Homo sapiens: one gene and its partners. The protein of the gene in region 5 purifies or fractionates together with the protein of the main gene of each other region. This does not show direct contact. Each region holds a gene or a part of one and is shown on either strand. Other genes may lie near its edges.

What was found.
Region 1: the proteins of LRRC8E (region 5) and CLGN purify together in Homo sapiens (co-immunoprecipitation; one large-scale study listed by IntAct). This does not show direct contact.
Region 2: the proteins of LRRC8E (region 5) and DMD purify together in Homo sapiens (affinity purification with mass spectrometry; 2 studies listed by BioGRID and IntAct, with this or other methods). This does not show direct contact.
Region 3: the proteins of LRRC8E (region 5) and TBC1D4 purify together in Homo sapiens (affinity purification with mass spectrometry; 2 studies listed by BioGRID and IntAct, with this or other methods). This does not show direct contact.
Region 4: the proteins of LRRC8E (region 5) and DDHD2 purify together in Homo sapiens (affinity purification with mass spectrometry; 2 studies listed by BioGRID and IntAct, with this or other methods). This does not show direct contact.
Region 6: the proteins of LRRC8E (region 5) and NPEPPS purify together in Homo sapiens (affinity purification with mass spectrometry; 2 studies listed by BioGRID and IntAct, with this or other methods). This does not show direct contact.
Region 7: the proteins of LRRC8E (region 5) and OPRPN purify together in Homo sapiens (affinity purification with mass spectrometry; one large-scale study listed by BioGRID and IntAct). This does not show direct contact.

The regions. Positions count from the first base shown.
Region 1 is NC_000004.12:140,407,149-140,410,648, reverse strand, and holds part of CLGN (calmegin precursor), read left to right. Parts: intron 1-22; coding exon 23-96; intron 97-753; coding exon 754-812; intron 813-3,500. UniProt on the Homo sapiens protein: Functions during spermatogenesis as a chaperone for a range of client proteins that are important for sperm adhesion onto the egg zona pellucida and for subsequent penetration of the zona pellucida.
Region 2 is NC_000023.11:33,205,050-33,208,549, forward strand, and holds part of DMD (dystrophin), read right to left. Parts: intron 1-3,500. UniProt on the Homo sapiens protein: Anchors the extracellular matrix to the cytoskeleton via F-actin. Ligand for dystroglycan.
Region 3 is NC_000013.11:75,283,170-75,286,669, forward strand, and holds the end of TBC1D4 (TBC1 domain family member 4), read right to left. Parts: 3' UTR 334-3,500; downstream 1-333.
Region 4 is NC_000008.11:38,234,585-38,238,084, reverse strand, and holds part of DDHD2 (triacylglycerol hydrolase DDHD2), read right to left. Parts: intron 548-3,500; coding exon 458-547; intron 1-457. UniProt on the Homo sapiens protein: Diacylglycerol (DAG) and triacylglycerol (TAG) lipase required for proper lipid homeostasis in the central nervous system. It cooperates with PNPLA2/ATGL in neuronal TAG catabolism and hydrolyzes sn-1,3 DAG downstream of PNPLA2/ATGL.
Region 5 is NC_000019.10:7,891,510-7,895,009, forward strand, and holds part of LRRC8E (volume-regulated anion channel subunit LRRC8E), read left to right. Parts: intron 1-2,063; exon of another isoform or gene 2,064-2,350; intron 2,351-3,010; exon of another isoform or gene 3,011-3,500. UniProt on the Homo sapiens protein: Non-essential component of the volume-regulated anion channel (VRAC, also named VSOAC channel), an anion channel required to maintain a constant cell volume in response to extracellular or intracellular osmotic changes.
Region 6 is NC_000017.11:47,593,608-47,597,107, reverse strand, and holds part of NPEPPS (puromycin-sensitive aminopeptidase), read right to left. Parts: intron 756-3,500; coding exon 646-755; intron 1-645. UniProt on the Homo sapiens protein: Aminopeptidase with broad substrate specificity for several peptides. Involved in proteolytic events essential for cell growth and viability. May act as regulator of neuropeptide activity.
Region 7 is NC_000004.12:70,400,940-70,404,439, forward strand, and holds part of OPRPN (opiorphin prepropeptide isoform 1 precursor), read left to right. Parts: intron 1-3,500. UniProt on the Homo sapiens protein: Opiorphin is an endogenous inhibitor of neprilysin and aminopeptidase N. Inhibits the breakdown of substance P, Mca-BK2 and Met-enkephalin by neprilysin in vitro with IC(50) values of 29 uM, 33 uM and 33 uM respectively.

The DNA of each region.
Region 1 (3,500 bases), on a different chromosome or scaffold from region 5:
ACTTGGAAAATCTCTTTTCTAGATTAAATATAAGACACCTCAACCTATAGGAGAAGTATATTTTGCAGAAACTTTTGATAGTGGAAGGTTGGCTGGGTGAGTATTCATTCAAGAGAATGTTTTCTTTGATTTATTAGCTTTTTTGAAGTTATTAGGTTTTGGCCTATGAAAATTATCTCTACTACAGATCTATAAAAAATTTTAAAGTAGTTTAATTGACAATGTAAATCAGTACTTAGTATATTTTTGTAATTGATAGAATGTTTAATTTGAATAGTTATTTATTCAAAGAAAATATACTAATTCCGAATGCAAAGATGAAATTTATAACATTTCTTTATTCTCTAGGACAGATTAACACTCTTAAGTTCAGATGACAAATATGAGTACTGCTCTACTCTAAATAATGGAAAAAACAAAAGTTAATATTAAATGATTATTATGTGTCAGATGTCCTTAAAAAAAGTAGATAATTACCATATTTAATCCCCATTTTACAGGTGGAGAAACCGAGGTTTCTTGTACCTTACCTGTGATCATACAGCTAGTAAATTATAGATTCCAAATTCGGTTTAACTCTAGCCCTTCAGGATTATGTGTAGGCATCCTTATTTAGCATCTAAGTATGAATTTATTGTTGAATGAAAAGTGACTGTATTGGGTGATCTTTTATTGTGTTTCTGTATGCCTTATATCTATAAATTGCTGCTTTTATTGTCAATGACATATATGTATGTTCAACTTTATTTACAGATGGGTCTTATCAAAAGCAAAGAAAGATGACATGGATGAGGAAATTTCAATATACGATGGTAAAATATTTATTTAAGTATTAGATATAACCAGTATGGCCTGGAGTTCACTAAACTTTGAGATTAGATTTTTGTTAAATTGTGTTGGCTGGAGTCCCCCACCCTGCCTCACAATAAAATGTTCAGTCTTTTATCTTGTCCCTCTTCAATATTTCTGAAAAACCCTTCGCTATTTCTGAAAATCTCACTCTTAAGCCAGTTAATCTAGTTTTCTAACTGAACAGTTGAATTTTCACTCTACTGCTGTTAGTCTTTTGCATTTCCTGAAGCAGTATTTCCCAGGCTACTGCTGTCTCTATGGTTTCATCTCAAGCATAGACACACCTTGATCTATAAATTAAATAAATTATAATTTATGGTAAGATTCTCCTAGCAAGTAAAAAGCAGAAGATAGCTAATGAGAGCTACAAGATATGTGGCTGCTTCTGGAATCCTCATCTCCAGGTCTATATCCATTATCATAGGGTGTCTAATAGGATTATCTTCAACCTTAGCTCTAGAAAGAAATGTCCTATAGGCAGGGGTCATATTGTCTTCCCTAATAGGACTACCCTAGAGTATGACCAAATATTTTCTTCTTTGTGGTCTAAAAACCAGCCTCCTTGATTGTTATATGCTGAAGCAAGATCAGCCTCTTCTCACAGTGACTGATAGTGGTAATTTCTTCTTTCTCAGAGGACCTCATACTCATAAACATGTGGCCCTGCACTCAGACTCTGATAAGCAGTTACATCACAACAGCAAAACAGATAGCATGTTGGATGTCAGCTGTCTGCTTCCTTTTCATAGTTTCTGTTTAGTGTAAGATAAAGATCATACCTGCATGTCTTCCTTTGCATGGTGTTCGCCATCCCAGCAAATCCCCTGTGTATATATATACACATATATACATATATACACAAATATATATACATATACACATATATGTGTGTATATATATGTGTGTGTGTGTATATATATATATATATATATATATGCTTATCAACTCCAAAAAGGACACCACCATATGCACAGAAAAAGCAGTAGTGGGATTTCTGGATCAAATAGTAGATCTACTTTCAGTTTTTTAATAAACCTCCATGCTGTTTTCCATAGAGGCTGTATTAATTTACATTGCACCAGCAGTGTATAAATGTTCCCTTTTTACCACATCCATGCCAATTGTTTTTTGACTTTTTAATAATGGCCATTCTTACAGGGGTAACGTAGTATCTCATTGTGGTTTTAATTTGCATTTCCTTGATGATTAGTGATGTTGAGCATTTTCTAAACATGTTCGTTGGCCATTTCTATATCTTCTTTTGAGAAATGTCTATTTATGTCATTTGCCTACTTTCTGATGGGATTAATTTTTTTCTTGCTGATTTGTTTGAGTCTCATGATTCTGGATACTAGTCCTTTGTCAGATTCATAGGTTATTAATATTTTCTCCCACACTGTGGGTTATCTGTTTACTCTGATGATTATTTCTTTCGCTGTGCAGAAGCTTTTTAGTTTAATTAGGTCCCATTTATTTATTTTTGTTTTTGTTGCATTTGCTTTTGGGTTCTTGGTCATGAATTCTTTGCCTAAGCCAATGTCTAGAAGAGTTTTTCTGGTGTTATCTTCTAGAATTTTCATGGTTTCAGATCTTAGGTTTAAGTCTTTAATCCATCTTGAGTTGATTTTTGTATAAGGTGACAAGTAAGGATCCAGTTTCATTCTTCTATATGTGGCTTGCCAGTTTTCTCAGTACCATTTATTAAATAGGGTGTCCTTTCCCTAATTTATATTTTTGTATGCTTGGTCAAAGATCAGTTAGTTGTAAGTATTTTGCTTTATTTCTGGTTCTTTATTCTGTTCCAGTGGTCTATGTGTCTACCTGAGACCATTACCATGCTGTTTTGATAGTATGGCCCTGTATAATTTGAAGTCAGGTAATGTGATGTCTCCAGATTTGTTCTTTTTGCTTAGGATTACTTTGGCTATTCAGGCTCTTTTTTGGTTCCATATGAACTTTTGGATTTTTTTTCCTAATTCTGTGAAAAATGTTTTTGGTATTTTCACAATAATCACACTGAATCTGTAGATGGCTTTGGGCGCTATGATCATTTTCATGATATTGATTCTTCCAATCCATGAGCATGGGATGTGTTTCCATTTGTTTGTGTCATCTATGATTTTTTTCAGCAGTGTTTTGTAGTCCTCCTTGTATAGATAGATCTTTCACCTCTGTTAAGAATATTCCTAGGGATTTTTTTTTTTTTTTTTGCAGCCATTGTAAAAGTCATTGAGTTCTTGATTTGATTTTCAGTTTGGTCGTTGTTGCTATGTAGCAGTACTACTGATTTGTGTACATTGATTTTGTAAGCTGAGACTTTTATTGAATTGATTTTTCAAGTCTAGTAGTCTATTGGATGAGTCTTTTGGGTTTTCTAGGTATGCAATCATATCATTAGCAAACAGTGATAGCTTGACTTCCTCGTTTCCAATTTGTATGTCCTTTATTTCTTTCTCTTGCCAGATTGCGCTGGCTAGGACTTCCAGATAAAGTTGTTACTTCTTAAAATAAGACCTTTATAGGGGGCGAGAGGCAAACTACAAGTTAGTGATAATACAATTCACCATCAATGTGAGAGAAAGAAAACCAAGTACATTAATCTTTTTCAAAAAAATATAATATGACCAAATCAGGGGGAGAAAGAAAAG
Region 2 (3,500 bases), on a different chromosome or scaffold from region 5:
TCAGCGTCTACTAAATCAGGATTCCCCAGCTGTCTGAGCTTCCCGTAAGCGATTTTAGTTAACCACCTACAAGCCAACATTTCTTGCATCTGATTACGCTCTTTAAAGTCTAATTTCCCTTTTGCTTCCTAGTTATTTTGCAACATGTGAGTCATTGGGATTCATCATTTTTACAGATTATTATTTTTTCACTTACTCAACTAGTTTATTAATATTTTGTTCACTTAGTCACCAATTTATTTCTAATACATCGTTCTTAAGCACCAACATAAAAAGGAATTACTCAATTTGCCTTTGATGAAAATACGTGGGCCATTCTGATTTTGTGATTTTTCTTTCTTATTTCTTTAATTTTTCCTCACACAGCTTCCAAGGCTAAAATCTGCACTTGTAACAGTGTACTGACTCCCTTGCCCTTTAAGTCAGCACTTAGCTCAGGCTAAGGTACTATTGCAACCGTAATCTGATAAAGGAAGAGACAAGTTGAGTGCAAATAAAGATGAGTGCCAGGAATGAGAAAAAAGCTACTGATGTTTATGCCCTTTTATAGTCCTGATTCCATGACAGTCTTAGCCAAAAGCAGAGTGGAAGAAGGGAGAACGCTTTAAAACAAAACAAAACAAAAGCCAAGAAGAGGGTAAAAACATTTAAAGGGTAAGCATTTTATTTGCCCATAATTGGAAATAATATGGGACACCGTAATGGTAATTGTGCTCAGCTAACACTGACCTTTTTTAAAAATCAAAATTTTCATGATAGTGAAGACAACACATTTAAAAGTTGACAAATTAGCAAGAGACTTCGTGATATATATGTGAATTCCTCATTGTTGATATGCCCATGTATGGTTTTCATATTTATTAAATATAAACAAAAAACATCATGATTCGAGCATCTGATTTTTTGAAGTTTCTTTAAAATTATCTTAATCCTCTCCAAAACCCATTAAGCCATCTACATTCTCATTTCATTACATGGATAAGCATTGGCTTTAATAATGCATTTTAATGTACCTCCTCTTCGTTGACACAACCACATTTTTCTACTAAAATAAATAACTAAACTAAAATGAATAATAAACAAAAATAAAGGCAAAGCTCTTCCTCAGATTCTTTTATTCAAATGGCAATTAGACCTACATATTATTCACCAGTCTTAGATATATTTCAGATTTCCAAATTGGCATGAGAAAATCAATTCATCAATTTGCTAGCATTTTTAATTTATGGACAATTATTTTCTTAAAATGGTATGTAATCAAAATACTGAGTTAAAAATTCTGAAAGAGTCATTTAAGAACAACAACAAACAACAACAGCAACAACATTTTATCAGCATGGCAAGGAAATGACAACTCCATTTCAATTAAAGGATCATTGTCCATTCTCCCCCAGTTCCCATTAGTGAGGAATGGGGTTCATAATGACAGAGTGAAAGTGAGGCATTGAGGGAGAAGGCAAAAGATCACAAAAGAAAGCAGGAATACATTGATTTCTAAACCAAATCCAGACTACTAAGAACATTGGTTTTCTCAGGGCTTACTATCATTACATATACTACGCAAAGTCACCTTCAGAGGTTGTAGGCCTCCAGAAAATTGCTCTGTGTGTTCCGTTGCCTACTGAAATTCCCAAGTATTTTGAACGAGTGATATCAGATTAAAATAAAGATCGAGCTCAGAGTTGAATAGAAATTATCCCTTAAAATGGCAGCCTAAACAGAAGATGTGAGCTATAAAAGAGGGAGTACTGATCTTTGTGTTTTTAATGGGAATGAGGTAGAGGTTGTATGGCCGTGAGATGAGGACTCTTTTTATTTTATTTTTTTTTAACTTTTAAGTTCAGGGCTACAAGTGCAGGTTTGTTACATAGGTAAACTTGTGCCATAGGGGTTTGCTGTACAGATTATTTCATCACCCAGGTATCAAGCCTAGTACCCATTAGTTGCTTTTCCTGATCCTCTTCCTCCTCCAACCCTCTACCCTCCGAAAGGCCCCAGGGTGTGTTGTTTCTCTCTATATGAGGACACTTTTAAGCATAAGACAGCAGAGCCATTTCCCTTCCTCATTCTCATTTGTCTGCTGCCTATCAGAATTGTGCTTAAGAAAATTTATATGCCCTTAAAACGCTGGAGCCAAATGTATTTTTTTGGTCTTTTTGTTGGGCCATATTCAAGGAAGTAATCTTGAATGGGGAAACAGAAAGGCTATGCCCTGGGTGTTAAAGTATTTCATAATCTCTAGAGGAGCCATCTGGTTTAAGAAGGCACATTGAATGCTATAATATGCTGTAATATATGAGGGAAACAGACTTTTTATACTATCAAGCCTTTCATGAAAAAATTTCATGAAAAAATAAACAAAATCATTTTAGCTTTTAATCTTGGAACTATATTTAGTATAGGAGTGATTCACAAATAGCAGAGTTACTCTCCCATTCGAAGGGGTTATCAGAATCTCTGGAAGACACATTCACTTTTAGTATTAAGTAGAGGGAGCTTGAAATTTTGCAAGGATTTTAGGGACAATTCTATAAGTGACATAAATAGAAAAAACCCTCCAAACTTGGTAAAATAATAAATTATCCCATGGTGTTGCCATTTTAACTTTGATATCTGTATTAAAATGAAACTTCAGAACTCCAAACATATGTCAATATTTTATAGCATGAAACCCCAAGGAAGTCTAACTAATAGATGTTTTACGTAGGGAAAAGGTGAAGACTACAAACTATTTATTTGCTTGGTTTGTTTGTTTTTTGAAGATCAGTATACTGCATTGAGCACACTCTACAAGGGGAAATATTTTCATGAAACCTGGTTGCATTTAATAAAAACGTTTATTTCCCACACTGCAGCCCATGACCTTCCCCAGAAAATATTCCAATACGAACCAACTGCCTTGATAACAGAACACAAACCTCCTAGGACTATAGCAGGACTTTGTGAGAAAGAAAACCATTGCCTCTCTCTGAATCCAATCAAAACCTGAATGTACTGTATAAAAATAAACCAAGGTCATCATTATTCCTTGTCATTGTGATTTGGCGTGCCTTCAAATTATATACCCTGTATATTTCAAATAACTGCACCGCCTCCATTAACTGAGTTTGACATCACTTTAATCAATGTATCTTTTCAGAATGAAAGGCAGAAATGTCAAATTCCTACCATTATAAATTCTTTTAACTCTCTAATCTGCATTAAATAAAAGGTTGTCTTTGAGAAATAATAAATGCTCTAAAGAAATATAACTAGCATCAATTTTATTTTAAAATGTAACTGGGAAAAGATTAAATGTCAACACATCTCTTCATACAGAGGTGATTTCCCAAGAAACTATTAAAGCCTTACTTACATGAGGGGCCCCTCCCAAGGCTGTATCCAATTTTCTATTATTTTTCTTAAAATAGCACCCCCAATTGTATAACCTCAGGCCCCATAAATCCTTTCTTCCTGGTTCGTTCTGTGTTGTCAGACAGGGAATGTACATTAGTCTCATT
Region 3 (3,500 bases), on a different chromosome or scaffold from region 5:
AAAGTGGTGGAACCAAGACACAGATATAAAACTTCTCACCCTAAATCCCGTGCTTTTCTCATTATATCACAGCTAATGAGTAATATAATGAGAGTGTCACATCATGGTAGAAGGACTAAATACTTCATGCCATCAGATGGTAGATTTCTTACTCCTAATCTGGTACTGTGAAAAAATAATTGGTGAAATAGTGACAAAATGGGTAAAAGTCAACATGGATATTAAGAGACTGTACTATTAAGCCTACAGTGCCTCCTTCTCAAAATGCTTAACTACTACATTAAGCAAAAAATAGTTAAAAGTGTTAGTCCTAAAGTTAGCAAGAAGATACAGTGTATTTTTATTGGATTACAAATATACATGAGAATACTCCAAGAGATGCATATTTTATATAAAAACATTCATATCACATCCATCAGTAAATGTCCTTAATTCTTAATTATCTGCGTCCAGTTGGAAAATTTTGTATTTTCTTGTGGCTCTCTCTCCCTTGCTATCTATGAGGGGGCCTGGAAAATAAAAGGGTAGAATGCAAATCTGTCAATGTGGTTGCTTATATTTTTCTTTCAAAAGTCTCCATTGAGAAAGTAAGTTGAAAAATGGTAACAATGTACTTACATAAATGTCTCCTAAATTATCTTTGTTGTCTGACTCTATTAGGAAGAATTATTTGTGTAGCAATTTTAAGTAGGTACAATCCAAACCATGCAGATCTTTTTTGTTTGGTTGTTTGTTTTTCTTTTTTTTTGTCAAAGTCTCACTCTGTGGCCCAGGCTAGAGTGCAGTGGCATGATGGCTCACTGCAAGCTCACTGCAAGCTCCGCCTCCCAGGTTCAAACTATTCTCCAGCCTCCTATAAGTAGCAATATATGCCTCTCCTACTCTCCTGAGTAGCTGAGATTACAGATGCACACCACCACGCCTGGCTAATTTTTGTATTTTCCCTAGAGATGGGGTTTCACCATGCAGATCTTGTAAAGCAGCGGTCTTCAACCTTCTTGACACCAGGGACTGGTTTCATGGAAGACAATCTTTCCACAGACTGGTGGCAGGGGATGGTTTCAGGATGATTCAATGATTCAAGCACATTTATTGTGCACTTTATTTCTATTATTATTATTATATCCTCACCATATTATTATTATATACTCACCATAATGTAGAATTAGTGGGAACCCTGACTGTTTTCCTGCAACTAGACGATCCCATCTGGGGATGATGGGAGACAGTGACAGATCATCAGGCATTCGATTCTCTTAAGGAACACAAAACATAGATCTCCTGCATGCACAGTTCACAATAGGGTTTGCGCTCCTATGAGAATCTAATGCCGTGGCTGATCTGACAGGAGTCAGAGCTCAGGCAGTCATGCTTGCTCGCATGCCCACCACTGCTGTGCAGCCTGGTTCATAACAGGCCACAGACAGGTACCCAGGGACCCCTGCAGTAAAAGACTCTAACCAAGAGCTGCTTCTCTCCCGAAAAGTAACAGTATACGTCAAGAAAGCTGCAGCAATATATTTATTGCAAAGGAACTAGACATTACATTAACCTGATGAAGATGTAACGATGCATGAAGCATAACTGGTGCAACATTTTTTAAAAATCACAAATGAAAAAGAAAATTCATTTTCAAAAGAAAATATTGTATCCAAGTCAGCTTAATCTCTGAACACCATAATATAACTCTTAATGTTGATTCTAAACATCCAGGATAAAGTTTACTTTAAACTGAATAAAAGAAAGAAAAGGTTTCTTTCCGAACTTCCCCAACAGATTCCTTGGCTACCATCGGTGCATCACACCCATAAAGTAATTGTCATCAACAGACCGTAAAAAGAAAAAACCCCTCCTACAAATAGAGAAATTCTCAGGAAATCCAAGCAACAAATCAATTAGTAGCCCCCAATTGAATGGGGCAGACAGAATCAGCATTTTCTAGAACTTAGAAGTTACATTAACTTTATTAATAAGATTTTATTGTCTTTTAAGAAACTGTATGGATTCAAGGGCACACTGAGCTATAACAAGTCATTATATACACACTGGGTAACAGTGCGGAGGGGGTTTCAGATGTTTGTCATCTGTTCATCAAAGCTTTCTGAAACCCCTAGAGCTTTACTATTCTACTCTATAATACATTTTCACTGTGTATAACAAACTCCCTTTGAAGAAAATTACCCCAGATAATCCATCTGTGAAAATACAAGTACTGCAAAAAGCAGTGAGGATAAATACTTTTTGGAAAGGCAAAAATGCTGCATCAACTTTCAGAGGCACTATCATAGAATCATCTCTGAAAAAGAGAACTGCAAATGTACTTTGAAAATTACTTTCCTTGCCTATACCCAGCATGCGTGAATGTCATCTAATGAGCTATTTGTAGGCTGAGGAAGTGAAGAGTTGAAATGCAGAATTGCAGGTTTTAGTTGAGCTGGTAACACTGGTACCACTTTCTTTTTTCCCTTCCAATGGATTTCAACAGTTTGTTCCTAAACATTTCACAGTTCTCAAAACTTTTCACATAAAAGGGGAAGATTATTAAAGCTTATTAGATTCTGTCAATTGGTCAAAAGAAAAAATGTATTTCAACACAGCTTGTCATCTTTGGAAAAAATCAATCATAATTACGTTTCCTTATACTGAATTTAAGGTAGAGAGACCTAAATTACAAGCACTCACAATTTGGTGGGAAAGTGGCAAATCCTTGTCATTTGGTGACTGTGGCACCAAATAAAGAGGAATTCATTCACAACTGAATGAGTTATTCAAATAAAAAAAGCAGAAAGCTAATCTAGACATTTTAGGTCCTAAATTAAATTTTTCAGGTGTGATATTTTTAGTTTGAGTAATAATGCTGGTCTAGTTTGCTAAAAAATTAGCAACATTCTCCTTTACCTTGAGCTGGGTAGACTCAGCCACAATGTCCTACTGTCTCTTTATGTATGTTTAAAGTAATGCCTAACCAGACTCATAATGCATGTAGATGCAACATGCTAGTTGGCACAAAGCAGGCAGGGAGAAATGACCCTACCTTCCCAAAAAACTCACAGGAGCATGACCAGTAATCATTTTCCTCATATAGACAATGTCAGTAGATATCAAGACAGATACACATAAAGTTACATAAATGTTTCCACCTTTTCACCATTGAGTGAAACATGCTGTTCTTTGGAGAAAAAAATACATTCATTTTTTTCAAGTATATTGCAATATACAAAGATGCTCTGGCTTTGTTTCACTATAAAGACAAAAAGATTTCACATATGTCCAAGGGAAATTTCAGTTTACCTTTCCTTTGGTGTGGATTTCATGAAGTTCTGACTAAAAAAATTAATCTAAATATACATCTACTCATTTTATCTGAAAGCATGAACTATGTTCATTTTATATATATATTTATATGTACATAGCAACAACAAAAACCAGTCTACATATGTCCAATGGCTTAGGATTGGCATGCTCTGATGAGCACGAGGTCCACCTGCTGTGACTAGGCG
Region 4 (3,500 bases), on a different chromosome or scaffold from region 5:
AACAGAACAGATCAGAGCAATAAAAATATTCTGCAATACAATCATCTCTATACAATGCAGTTTTAAGTGTAGAATCATGTCTTTCAAACCACACAGTAAAATCTGAACTGGAGTTTTGATATACAACTCGTATGGCTTGAAATGAGAACCGTGAAAATATATTAGGCTAACAGATCTGTCAATAGTCCCTTTCTACATGGAAGACATGCTCACATAATATGTCAGTGATTTTCTTATTCTACAGTGGCATAATTTTCCATAAGAAAATTATTTTGTATAAGCTGAGTTGGGTAAATAACAGTAGTGGCTACAAGTTTTTAAGTTTCATAACTGTGAATTCAATATAAAATTTGACAAAGGTTATCCTACACAGAGTGCTTAGCAAAAGAAACCAATTGAGTTCTCCCTAATAGCGCAATTAACTTTTTATCCCGACAAGAGAAATGCTTTGTTTTACCTTTGGATTGTGTAAAATAATAATTTCTCTGTTGGGAGATTCCAGTTTCTTTTTCCATTCATCCAAAGTTACAGCAAGCATGTAAGTTTCCTTAAAAGAAAACACATTTCATTAGAGTTCTCTAGTAGCTTTCCTATTAAACTGAACCTATTAACAAGAATACTATGTATTAATGAGTTTCAATAAGAATATCCTACTCCAATTTATCAAATTTATTTTTAAATCTTTTTGTTGTTGTTGTTGTTTGTTTTGTTTTGTTTGTCTTACTCTGTCGCCCAGGCTGGGTTGCAGTGGCACAATCTCGGCTCACTGCAACCTCCGCCCCCCAGGTTCAAGCAGTTCTCTTGCCTCAGTCTCCCAAGTAGCTGGGATTACAGGCACCCGCCACCACATTCGGCTAACTTTTGTAGTTTTAGTAGATACGGGGTTTGGCCATAATGGCTAGGCTGGTCTCAAACTCCTGACCTCAGGTGATCTGCCTGCCTCGGCCTCCCAAAGTGCTGGGATTACAAGCATGAGCCACAGCACCCAGCCTATTTTTAAATTATTTTGAAATTACAACTGATAGTAGCACCAGGACAAAGGGGGAAAAATACTCCTAATTCCATCATCTACGCTAGATAATTAGTGTTCACATTTTAATATATTAATATTAATGTTCTAGACCAGGCGTGGTGGCTCATGCCTGTAATCACAATACTTTGGGAGGCCAAGGCAGGAAGATCACCTGAGGTCTGGCATTCGAGACCAGCCTGGCCAACACGGCAAAACCCCATTTTTACTAAAAATACAAAAATTAGCCAGTGTGAGCCGGGCGCGGTGGCTCACGCCTATAATCCCAGCACTTTGGAAGGCCAAGGCGGGTGGATCACCTGAGGTTGGGAGTTCGAGACCAGCCTGACCAACATGAAGAAATCCCATCCCATCTCTACTACAAATACAAAATTAGCCAGGCATTGTGGCACATGCCTGTAATCCCAGCTACTCGGGAGGCTGAGGCAGGAGAATCGCTTGAACCCAGGAGGCAGAGGTTGCGGTGAGCTGAGATCGCGCCACTACACTACAGCCTGGGAAACAAGAGTGGAACTCCGTCTCAAAAAAAAAAAATTAGCCAGTGTGGTGAGGCACGCTTGTAATCCCAGCTACTTAGGAGGGTGAGGCAGGAAAAGTGCTTGAACCCAGGATGCAGAGGTTGCAGTGAGCCGAGATCGCACCACTGGACTCCAGCCTGGGCAACAGAGTGAGACTCTGTCTCAAAAACAAAAACAAAAACAAAAACAAAAAAAGCAAAAAAAAAAAACCAAAAACAAGAAAAAGGCTGGGCGTGGTGGCTCACGCCTGTAATCCCAGCACTTTGGGAGGCCGAGGCGGGCGGATCACGAGGTCAGGAGCTTGAGACCATCCTGGCTAACACGGTGAAACCCCGTCTCTACTAAAAATACAAAAAATTAGCTGGGCGTGGTGGCGGGCGCCTGTAGTCCCAGCTACTTGGGAGGCTGAGACAGGAGAATGGCAAGAACCCAGGAGGCAGAGCTTGCAATGAGCCAAGATCGTGCCACTGCACTCCAGCCTGGGAAACAGAACGACACTCTTGTTTCAACAACAACAAAAAATACTAACGCTCTACTCCAATTTAAAGAAAAATTTCAGTTTTCAGAGCAAGAAAAATAAAAGCTAAAAAAGATCAATCCTGTGACCATAGCATAATACAGTTTGCATTTGTATTTGTGTGTGTGTGTGTGTGTGTGTGTGTGCGCGTGTACTTTTTTTTGTAGTGGTGGGGTCTTGCTTTGTTGCCCAGGCTGTTCTCAAATTCCTGGGCTCAAGTCATCCTCCTGCCTTGGCCTCACAATGTGCTGGGATTACAGGTGAGAGCCACTGTGCCCACCAGTTTTTTTTTTTTTTTTTGAGATGGAGTTTTGCTCGTTGCCCAGGCTGTAGTTCAATGGTGCGATCTCCACTCACCACAACCTCCACCTCCCGGGTTCAAGCAATTCTCTTGCCTCAGCCTCCCAAGTAGCTGGGATTACAGGCGTGCACCACCGTGCCCAGCTAATTTTGTATTTTTAGTAGAGACGAGGTTTCTCCATGTTGGTCAGGCTGGTCTCAAACTCCCAACCTCAGGTGATCCGCCCACCTCAGCCCCCCAAACTGCTGGGATTACAGGCGTGAGCCACCAGGCCCGGAGTATTTTTTTCTTTTTTTACACCTTAAAACACCACAACCATTTCCATCGTATTTTAAAATCTGAAAAAGGCCAAGCACAGTAGCTCACACCTGTAATCCCAGCACTTTGGGAGGCCGAGGCCAGCAGATCATTTGAGGTCAGGAGTTCGAGACAAGCCTAGCCAACATGGTGAAACCCCATCTCTAATAAAAATCAGTAGGAACAACTCTCCCATTACAATATTTTCCTTTCAAGGATTGAAAAGGGGAAAAGAAGTACATATTTCAAAATAAATCTCCCAACATACAATTCTGAGTTATATTCTAAATAATGTTATGAAACACATGAATGAACAGTTCCTACTTGGCTAAACACCAAACAAAATGGAATCTAATTCATATCTTTTTCACTACCTACTTTACAAACCGTCAAACCATTCCTGATTTTAATGAAACATGAAAAAAAATACTACCCAAACAGTTTTGTTCTTTTTCTGAGGAAAGATAGCAGTGCCCCTTAAAAAAAATTAGCCAGGTGTGGTGGCGGCCACCTGTAATCCCAGCTACTTGGGAGGCTGAGGCATGAGAATCACTTGAACCGGGGAGGTGGAGGTTGCAGTGAGCCAAGATCGCACCACTGCACTCCAGCCTGGGCAACAGAGCGAGACTCCGTCTCAAAAAAAAAAAAAAAATCTGAAAATAAGACTACTTTATCCTGAAACTTGCTTGTAAATAGAAATGCTTTATTATGTTTTATAATGTGATGCAGACAGAACCAAAGTCTTTCTGGAAATTTCACAAAATAAATTACAAAGGAAAGAAAAGATTATTAAATAAGAGAAAGAAAGAATAAGTAAAAAAAGAGTCAAAAGAATAC
Region 5 (3,500 bases):
TTGGTCCCTGCTCGGGTGTGTGTGTGTGTGTGTGTGTTTGTGTGTGTGTGTGTGTGTTGTGTGATTTCTTCTGCAGCCTCCAGAGTCAGGAGTTTTTGTTTTGTTTTGTTTTTTTGAGACGGAGTCTCGCTCTGTCGCCCAGGCTGGAGTGCAGTGGCGAGATCTTGGCTCACTGCAGCTTCTGTCTCCCGAGTTTAAGCAATTCTCCTGCCTCACTCTCCTGAGTAGCTGGGATTACAGGCATCCACCACCATGCCTGGCTAATTGTTTTTGTATTTTTAGTAGAGACGAGGTTTCACCATGTTGGCCAGGCTGGTCTGGAACTCCTGACCTCAAATTATCCGCCTACCTTGGCCTCCCAAAGTGCTGGGATTACAGGCGAGAGCCACCGCGCCCGGCCCCAGTCAGTAGTGTTTTGCTTGCTGTGTTTGAGATAGGGTCTTGCCCAGGCTGGTTCATGGCTCACTGCAGCCTCTAACTCCTGGGTTCAAGCAATCCTCCCACCTCAGTCTTCCAAGTAGCTGGGACTACAGGCATGCACCACCACACCTGGCAAGATTTTAGATTTTTTTTTTTTTTTTGAGACGGAGTCTCGCTCTGTCGCCCAGGCTGGAGTACAGTTGTGCAATCTTGGCTCACTGCAGGCTCTGCCTCCCAGGTTCACGCCATTCTCCTGCCTCAGCCTCCCAAGTAGCTGGGACTACAGGCGTCTGCCACTATGCCCGGCTAATTTTTTGTATTTTTAGTAGAGACGGGGTTTCGCCGCATTAGCCAGGATGGTCTCAATCTCCTGACCTCGTGATCCACCCACCTCGGCCTCCCAAAGTGCTGGGATTACAGGCGTGAGCCACCGCACCCGGCCCAAATTTTTAGATTTTTTTGTAGAAATGGGGTCTGACTATGTTGTCCTGGCTGCTCAAACTCCTGGGCTCAAGCAATCCTCCTGCCTCAGCCTCCCAAAGTGCTGGAATTACAGGCCTGAGCCACTGCACCCAGCCTGGGGTCAGCATTCTTAGGTAAAGCAACTGAGCAGTGTCCCTGCAGGATCCTTGGAGGACTCAATGGATGGCCGGAACCAAAACAGGACGTGAGGGTCCCTGGTGCTGGGTCCCTCCGAAGCTCAGTGTGTGTACTTGGACTTTATACCCTCGTGCACAAATATGCATGACCCAAAATGACCCCAAGCGTCCATTTTGGTGGGTGCAATGTACATATTCTTCCCCTGGGGACAGTTGAGCTATCCTGGTATGTTTCTACCAGATTACATACTGGTGACCCAGGCAGACTGGGATATTTGTAGTCGGGTTTCTTTTCTCTTCTCTTCTCTTTTTTAGAGACAGGGTCTTGCTCTGTCGCCCAGGCTGGAATGCAGTAGTGCAATCTTGGCTGACTGCAACCTCCGCCTCCCGGGTTCAAGGGGTTTTCGTGCCTCAGCCTCCCGAGTAACCGGGACTACAGGCACCCTCCACCATGACTGGCTGTTTTGTATTTTTATTTTTATTTTGTTTTAGTTTTGAGACAGAGTCTTGCACTATTGTCTGGGCTAGAGTGCAGTGGCGCAATCTCAGCTCACTGCAACCTCTGCCTCCCAGGTTCAAGCGATCCTCCTGCCTCAGCCTCCCTAGTAGCTGGGATTACAGGCACCTGCCACCACGCCCAGCTAATTTTTTGTATTTTTAGTAGAGACGGGGTTTCATCACGTTGGCCAGGCTGGTCCCTAACTCCTGACCTTGTGATTTGCCTGCCTCGGCCTCCCAAAGTGCTGGGATTACAGGCGTGAGCCACCGCACCTGGCTAATTTTTGTATTTTTAATAGAGACGGAGTTTCACCATGTTGGCCAGGCTGGTCTCGAACTCCTAACCTCAAGTGATCTGCCCACCTCGGCCTCCCAAAGTATACTTGGCTTTTTGCTTAGGGCAGGGAGTGTGAATGAGCATGAGGGCCAGGCCATGGTGCGAAGGACCCTGTGCTCTGGGCACCCCCTTGCATGGATCTGGGTCTGGGTGAGTCACTGCCTGAGTCAGGGAACCCATGACTTTTTTTTTTTTTTTTCCCGAGACAGAGTCTCGCTCCGTCTCCCAGGCTAGATTGCAGTGGCACGATCTCAGCTCACCACAACCTCCGCTTCCCGGGTTCAAGCGATTCTCCTGCCTAGCTGGGACTACAGGTTCATGCCACCATGCCCGGCTAATTTTTGTATTTTTAGAAGAGACGGGGTTTCACCATGCTGGCCAGGCTGGTTTCGAACTCCTGACCTTGTGATCCGCCTGCCTTGGCCTCCCAAAGTGCTGGGATTACAGACGTGAGCCACTGCGCCTGGCCCAACCTATGACATTTTACACTTGCATGGTGAGTCCCCGTGTGGGCAGGCTGTACCCACACCCTTGCCTGCCTATCTGATTCCCCAGACTGAAGTGGGGGCCTCTGAGGGGGTAAAAGGATGTGGTCTTTCGGGACTGCTTGGCCTTTAGCTTGGTGGGTGGAGCCTGTATCCTACCTTGTTTTAACCCAGGAGTCACCCCAAAATATGGGGGGGACACAAACTGAAAAGGGAGGCTCAGACATGTCAGAACCATTGGCTGAGTCGTGGGTCAGGGGACCAGGGTTTCCCTAGATTCTTCCTGGGGAGATGGATGGGGAGCCAGAGATAACTCCCTGATGGGCAGATGCCCTCCTTCTTGGCCCAACTCCTGTCCCGTTACAGATTATCTTTGTCTTTTGTTTTGTTTGTTTGAGATGGAGTCTCACTCTGTCACCCAGGCTGGAGTGCAGTGGCACGGTCTCACTTCACTGCCACCTCTGCCTCCCCGGATCAAGACCCTCCCACCTCAGCCTCCAGAGTAGCTAGGATTACAGGTGTGTGTCACCACACCTGGTTAATTTTTTGTGTATTTTTAGTAGACTCTGGGTTTCACCATGTTGGCCTCACTGGTCTCGAACTCCTAACCTCAAGTGATCCACCTGCCTCAGCTTCCCATAGTGCTGGGATTACAGGCATGAGCCACCGCGCCCAGCCCCAGTTACAGATTATCTATCTGGACAAGGACAGGAGGCTCCCAGGAGTGGGGGAACTTGGATGTTGGCAGAAGTGGGCTGGTCTAAGGTTCCCCACCTTCCTTGTTCCACCTCCAGCCTCTGGGGAAGTAGGTACCTGCCTGGGAGAGTGACATCTCAGCTCATGCCCCACGCCCCAGTGTGATTTGTGGCTGGCCTGTCTGTATCTGTAATAGTGATAGCTTGGTCTAAAAGGAGACCCTGGGAACAGACAGAGTGGGCCGGCCAGGAGCCTGACAGCACAGCCCTAGCCTGGTCGCAGATGTCACCTGACAACTTTCCATTTGCAAATCCTCCTTCCTCCTCGGACATCCGGACACCCCATTGCCCCCTCTCAGAGCCCAGGTCTCTGGTTTCTGCCTGTGATTCTGGGCTGTAGCCCCTTTAGAAACTCAGGTGTCCTGGTCACCTCCTACCCCCAGGGCTGACTAGCCTTCAGCTTGGC
Region 6 (3,500 bases), on a different chromosome or scaffold from region 5:
TGCATTTGATTCTGTTTATGTAGTGATTATAAATCAATACATTGATTTTTTTTTTTTTTTGAGACGAAGTCTCGCTCTGTTGCCCAAGCTGGAGTGCAGTGGCACAATCTCGGCTCGCTGCAACTTCCACCTCTCGAGTTCAAGCAATTCTCCTGCCTAAGTCTCCAGAGTAGCTGGGATTACAGGTGTGTGCCACCATGCTCAGCTAATTTCTGTATTTTTAGTAGAGACAGGGTTTTACTACATTGGCCGGGCTGGCCTCAAACTCCCGACCTCAAGTGATCCACCCGCCACGGCCTCCCAGAGTGTTGGGATTACAGGCGTGAGCCACCACGCCCGGCCTAATTTTTTAAAAAATGTTAAACCAACCTTGCATTTGTAGAATAAACCATATTTGGTGGTTTTAGAATTATATCAAATTTTACAGTATTTTCCCTGGAGACTAGACAAGCAAGTAACATTTTGTTTTCTCTCTTAAGCATGTATAATTTTAATGATGCAAGCTGTAAAATTACTGATAAAAGAGTAACAGGGCTGGTTTAAATGTCACTAGAAAACTTAAAGTACAGAAAAGCAAACTTGATACACTGTACTGAACTTCATTTAATACAATATCAGACAAATGGAAAGACTTTATATGTTTACCTGTTCAGCTTCCACATAAATGAGGGGAAATCCCATTTGTTTGGTCCAGGTATTCATCACAGCTGCTATAGGTTTACCACTAGCATTTTCTAAACTTTCCCAGAGATCCTCTAGAAGATAAACAATGATAATCTAAAATGTTTATATTTTTATTTTCCTAAACAAAAAAGAAATTTTATTTAACTTTTGACACTACACTGCTAATTCTTTGGTTCTTTCAGGTTCAGGAAACAGTGAGCCAAATTAACATTCCCCTTGCCACCCCTCTTCTGCAACTAAGTAAATTCTATCATAAAAACTGGTATTTTTTGAGATACGGTCTTACTTCATCACCCAGGCTAGAGTGCAGTGGCATAATCACAGCTCACTGCAGCCTCGACCTCCCAGACTCAGGTGATCTTCCCTCCTCAGCCTCCTGAGTAGCTGGGACTACAGGTGCACACCACAACACCTGGCTTTTTTTTTTTTTTTTTTTTTTTTTGAGATGGAGTCTTGCTCTGTTGCCCAGGCTGGAGTGCAGTGCCATGATCTAAGATCACTGCAACTTCTGCCTCCCAGGTTCAAGCAATTCTCCTGCTTCAGGTGCCTGAGTAGCTGGGATTACAGGCATGTGCCACCACACCCAGCTAATTTTTGTATTTTTAGTAGAGATGGAGTTTCGCCATGTTGACCAGGTTGGTCTTGAACTCCTGACCTCAGGTGATCCACTGCCTCGGCCTCCCAAAGTGCTGGGATTACAGGCATGAGCCACCGCACCTGGCCCATAATTTCTTGCAATTTTTTGTAGAGATGGGATTTCACCATGTTGCCCAGGCTGGTCTCAAAATCCCGGGCTCAAGCAATCCACCTGCCTCAGCCTCCCAAGGTGCTGGAATTACAGGTGTGAGTCATAACACCTGGCCAAAACTGGTCTTTTATTCTGAGATATACTTAATCATTCTAATTTATAAGAAAAATTACAAATTATAATAAAAGATAAACAGATGAGTTAAGGAGAAACAAAGAAATTGAAATGTGTTCAAGATCACTACTAAACAATCACTGACAAACTTAAGACCGTTATACCCATTCAATTAACCTCACTTTAAAAATATCCAGGCTGGACGCAGTGGTTCATGCCTATAATCCCAGCACTTTGGGAGGCCAAAGCGGGCGGATCACCTGAGGTCTGGAGTTCAAGACCAGTCTGACCAACATGGAGACACCCCATCTCTACTAAAAATACAAAATTAGGCTGGGTGCAGTGGCTCACACCTGCAATCCCAGCACTTTGGGAGGCCGAGGTGGGCACGTCACCTGAGGTCAGGAGTTCGAAACCAGCCTGGCCAACATGGTGAAACCCTGTCTCTACTAAAAATACAAAAATTAGCTGGGCATGGTGGCACACACCTGTAATCCCAGCTACTTGGGAGGCTGAGACAGGAGAATCACTTGAACCCAGGAGGCGGAGGTTGCAACGAAGCCAAGACTGCACCACTGCACTCCAGCCTGGGCGACAGAGCAAGACCCTGTCTTTAAAAAAAATAAAATAGGCCAGGCGCGGTGGCTCACGCCTGTAATCCCAGCACTTTGGGAGGCAGAGGCGGGCGGATCATGAGGTCAGGAGATCGAGACCATCCTGGCTAACACAGTGAAACCCTGTCTCTACTAAAAATACAAAAAATTAGCCGGGCGTGGTGGCGGGCGCCTGTAGTCCCAGCTACTCGGGAGGCTGAGGCAGGAGAATGGCCTGAACCCGGGAGGTGGAGCTTGCAGTGAGCCGAGATCGCGCCACTGCACTCCAGCCTGGGCGACAGAGCGAGACTCCGTCTCAAAAAATAACATAACATAACATAACATAACATAACATAACATAACATAACATAACATAAAATAAAATACAAAATTAGCCGGCCGTGGTGGCACATGCCTGTAATCCCAGCTACTCAGGAGGCTGAGGCAGGAGAATCACTTGAACCCGGGAGGCGGAGGTTGTGGTGAGCCAAGACTGCACCATTGCACTCCAGCCTGGGCAACAAGAGCGAAACTCTGTCTCAAAAAAAAAAAAAAAGAATTGAAAAGAATCAAAAAGTTAAAAAAATTAAAAAGTAAATTTAAAATGTTACAGTAAGCTAAGGTTAATTTATTATTCAAGAAAGAAAAATTATTTTTATAAATTCAGTGTAGCCTAAGTGTAAAGTATTTATAATATCTATAGTAGTGTATAGTAATGTCTTAGGCCTTCATATTCACTCACCACTCACTCAACTAGAACAACCTCTATAAGTTGTCCTATAAGCTGCATTCAGGTGTAGCACCTTATTTTCTTTTGAGACCGCGTTTCGCTGTTGCCCAGGCTGGAGTGCAGTGGCCCAATCACAGCTCACTGCAGCTTTGACCTCCCAGGCTCAAGTGATCCTCCTACCTCAGCCTCCCAAGTAGCTGGGACTACAGGCACATGCCACCACACCCAGCTAATTTTTGTACTTTTTATAGAAGCGAGGTTTTGGCATGGTGCCCAGGCTGGTCTCAAACTCCTGGACTCAAGCAGTCCACCTGCCCCAGCCTCCCAAAGTGCTGGGATTATAGGCATATCAGCCAGCTGGTGGAGCATCTTTAATATCATATTTTTACTGTACCTTTTCTATATTTAGAAATGTTCAGGTATACAAATACCATTGTGTTATAATTGCCTATGGTATTCAGTACAGTAACATGCTGTACAGGTATTTTGTAGCCTAGCAGCAACAGGGTATATACCATGTAGGCTAGGTGTACATAGCCTAGGACATACTGTGTAGGTTTCTGTAAGTACATTCTATGATGTTCACATATTGATGAAATTGCCTGACAACATATTTCTCAGAACATATCCC
Region 7 (3,500 bases), on a different chromosome or scaffold from region 5:
AGAGGTTGTTGACTAGAATACTTCTCAGAGACAATAATAGAGGAAATGCTGTCTTTGATTCTCTATCTACAACCTTCTGTTTCATACTGAGGACAGACAACTTCTGAGGAGTCCTACATAAAGCATCTACCTTGAGGATTCATATGAATTAATGGCATATTTTTATTCCAGAAGCCTGAATTGCAAGACAAATGTAACTTAAATTCTTTTCTACCTTGAAAGAGTATAGAATCCCATTTATATAAGAAGCAGAGGATTCCATGTCCTAAAAAAACATGAGTTTAATACATAAATTTTCTCATGTTAGAATTAAATATTATTGGATATAAGAAAACAAGAACCACAAGACATAATTTTAAGGTCACTCTAGCAAAAATTTCTTGCTGTATTCATTGTCTCATGAGAAGTTGGTAAATCTTAACAACAGTCTTAAGCATTAGTCTAAATAAAGAAACTTTATTGTACTTAGCATCTAGAACTTTCAATATATCAGAGATTATCTTTTATGAGATAGGGACTATCTAGGATTTAAATTAAAAATAACAGTTCATATTTGTATATTTACAATGTACTCTGGAGCACAGTTTTACCCTCAAACCTCACAAAAACCCAGGAACTATTTGGGATGCTCCTTTACATAGCACAGAGCTGAACATGAGACAAACCCTCAATAAGTATTAGGGGAATGACACAACAAGTGAATGGGCCTTTGTGTAGTTGACGCCAAGTAATAACAAATAGGTTTCAGAGTCTTACCTGTTCATTCATGCCATTGGATAGGCTATATGAAGTATGACACAGGGATGGATAATAGGCCAAGTGTAAGCTCAAAGGTAAAGTATCTCATGGTGGACAAGGATATCTGCCATGCTCACAAGATGAGTAACGACAGCATTTTTGCCAATACCTGCCATCCCTAACTTAGAGAAGACTTTGTTTGCAGCACAATCTGTCCACTAAACTGCTGTCAGCTGTCAGTTGGTTAAGCTGTCAGTCTGGCAGTTTCTAATCCTTAAGAATAGGAAATAGAAGTTTAAAAAAAGTAAAAAGTAAAATAAACTTAAAAACAGAACATAAATAAAATACTTTACAGAAAGGGCTATGATAAAATAATTGCCAAAAGCAAAGCAAAACCTTTAGCCTGAACTAAACCAACGATAAGCAGATATCAAATAACCGAAGACAGACAGTGGTTCTCCAAACTCTACAAACTCTAGAAACTCTATCAGGAACACAAATCATCTAGGGATTTTGTAGAACTGCAGACTCTGATCCAGTAGGTCTGCCTGAGCCCCATAAGTCTACATTTCTAACAAGCCCTCAGGTGATACTGGTGCTGATCTGTTGGTCAGCAAATAACATTTTGAGTAACAAGGCCCTGGTCAACTGAGAAATCAAACAGAGAAAGGCTGAGGACTTCTTACGGGTTTGTATAAATGCTCAAATGTTGTCACGGGAAAGGATTACGCTCCTTGCCATGTGCAAGGAAGGAAATGGCATTCTGAAATCAAGTAAGAGAAATTTCTGCTTATCACCAAATATGGGGAATTCATTCAACCCAAAATACTTATTGAGCACTTATTGTTTGCCAGGCACTATTCTAGATGTTGGGTAAACAGCAGTGAACAAAACAGACAAAAAGTTTCTAACCTCATGGAGCTTATATTCTACTTGGGGAAGACAAGCCATAAACAAAATAACTGACTATGTAATGCAGAAAATTTGGGAAGAAGGAATTTTAGGAGGAGGTAGAACAAGGATGTGATTTTAGATAGGGTAGCCCAGTGGAAAATGGCATTTGATTAAAGACCTGAAGTGGGTGAAAAAGCCAACCATGCAAGCAGAGGAAACAGGGAGTTCCAAAGTCTGGAGTAGGGTACACTTGCCTAGTGTGAAGAATAAGGAGGCTAGCATGGCTGGTAGAGAGTGAGATGGGAAGAGAGGAGCAGGAGGTGATACTAGAGAGTTAGAGGAGGGTGAGGCTGCATCAGGTCTCATGGGCTTTTGCAGAGCCTTAGTTTTACTCTGAGTGACATGCAAAACTTTAGTACATGAAGTCAGTACAAAACCTCAGAAAGATGCCGTCTCTTCCCACACACTCTTGCTTTCCATCATCCATAATGATTTGGAGAAAAAAAATGAAACTTCTAAAATATCTGAATGGCATCCATAAATATTTACTTAAAGTCACCTACAGCTTAAGAAGGATACAAACACTGATAAACATGACCTCTAACTTCAAGGGGTATATGACTGTCAGAGGATACAAGATAGATTGGTAATAATAGCCAGAGCAGGAGTTGACAAACTTTTCTGAAAAGGGCCAGATAACAAATATTGTAGGCTTCTGTGGGCCTGTAATAAGTGGTCAACTTGGCTGAGGTAGCTTGAAAGCAGCTACAATAAACGAATGGGCATGGTTATGTTCCAGTAAAACTTTATTTACCAAAACAGGCAAACTACATTTGGCCCACAGCCTTAGTTTGCTAACTCCCAGTCTACAGAGACAGTGAACAAGGCAATATGGCATGTAAAAACCTGATATTTCATTTACAAAATAATCATAAAATTAACCCAACATTATTCATGAGTTTGCAAAAAATATTTATGTTTCATTGAAACATGTTTGCATGTTTGTGTGCATGCAAAATACTATGCTAAATTATTTGTCATTTTAATTATTTTTTCTAAAGAACATCATGTGATAGATACTATTACTTTCTCTCTTTTAAAGATAGGAAAAGTAACAGAGAGGTTACATAACTTACCCAAATTCACATAACTTGTGAATGGAGAAACAAAATTTTAACTTGCCTTGATCTATTTGCCTATCTTCTGCCTTTTCTTCTATTATCTGGGATGGACTAAAATCAACCCAATATATTCTAAGACCAACCCCTCAACTTGTACACTAGATCCCATCCTCTCCCCTAAGCAAGGAGATTCCTGCAATTATCCTGCAATTATCTACTCTAAATCTAAATATCAGCAATTTTTCCTTCTCTCTATTGATTGTTCCTACTAGCACATAAATATGAGGTAATATCATTTATATGTTTGTTTTCATACTCCACTGATCTTATGGCTCCCATCATGGTCCATTTGAAAAAGTTGCCTCTGTACATCTTCACTTCTTTTCCTGTTCTGTCTTAAGCCTACTCCAAGCAGACTTTGCCCACATCATTTGGATGAAACCACATTTGTCAAATTGTACTCAAAATGGCCAGGCGTAAGGGTCAGCTTTCAGTCCCCATGATAATTATGTCTAAATTGTATTTGACATGATCAGTCTCCTACTTAAAGAGTTTTTTCTTTTTCCTCAACTCCACTCTCCTGATTTTTCTCCTACTTCAATGACGACTCCTTGTTGGTCTCCTTCTCCAGACACATCTCCTCTTCCTGATCTCTAAATGTCAGAGTCTCCCAGGACACCATCTTCTTACCCTTTCTCCATCTATGAGCACAAATCCAGTTGCTCAAGCCAAAAAAAACTTGAAATC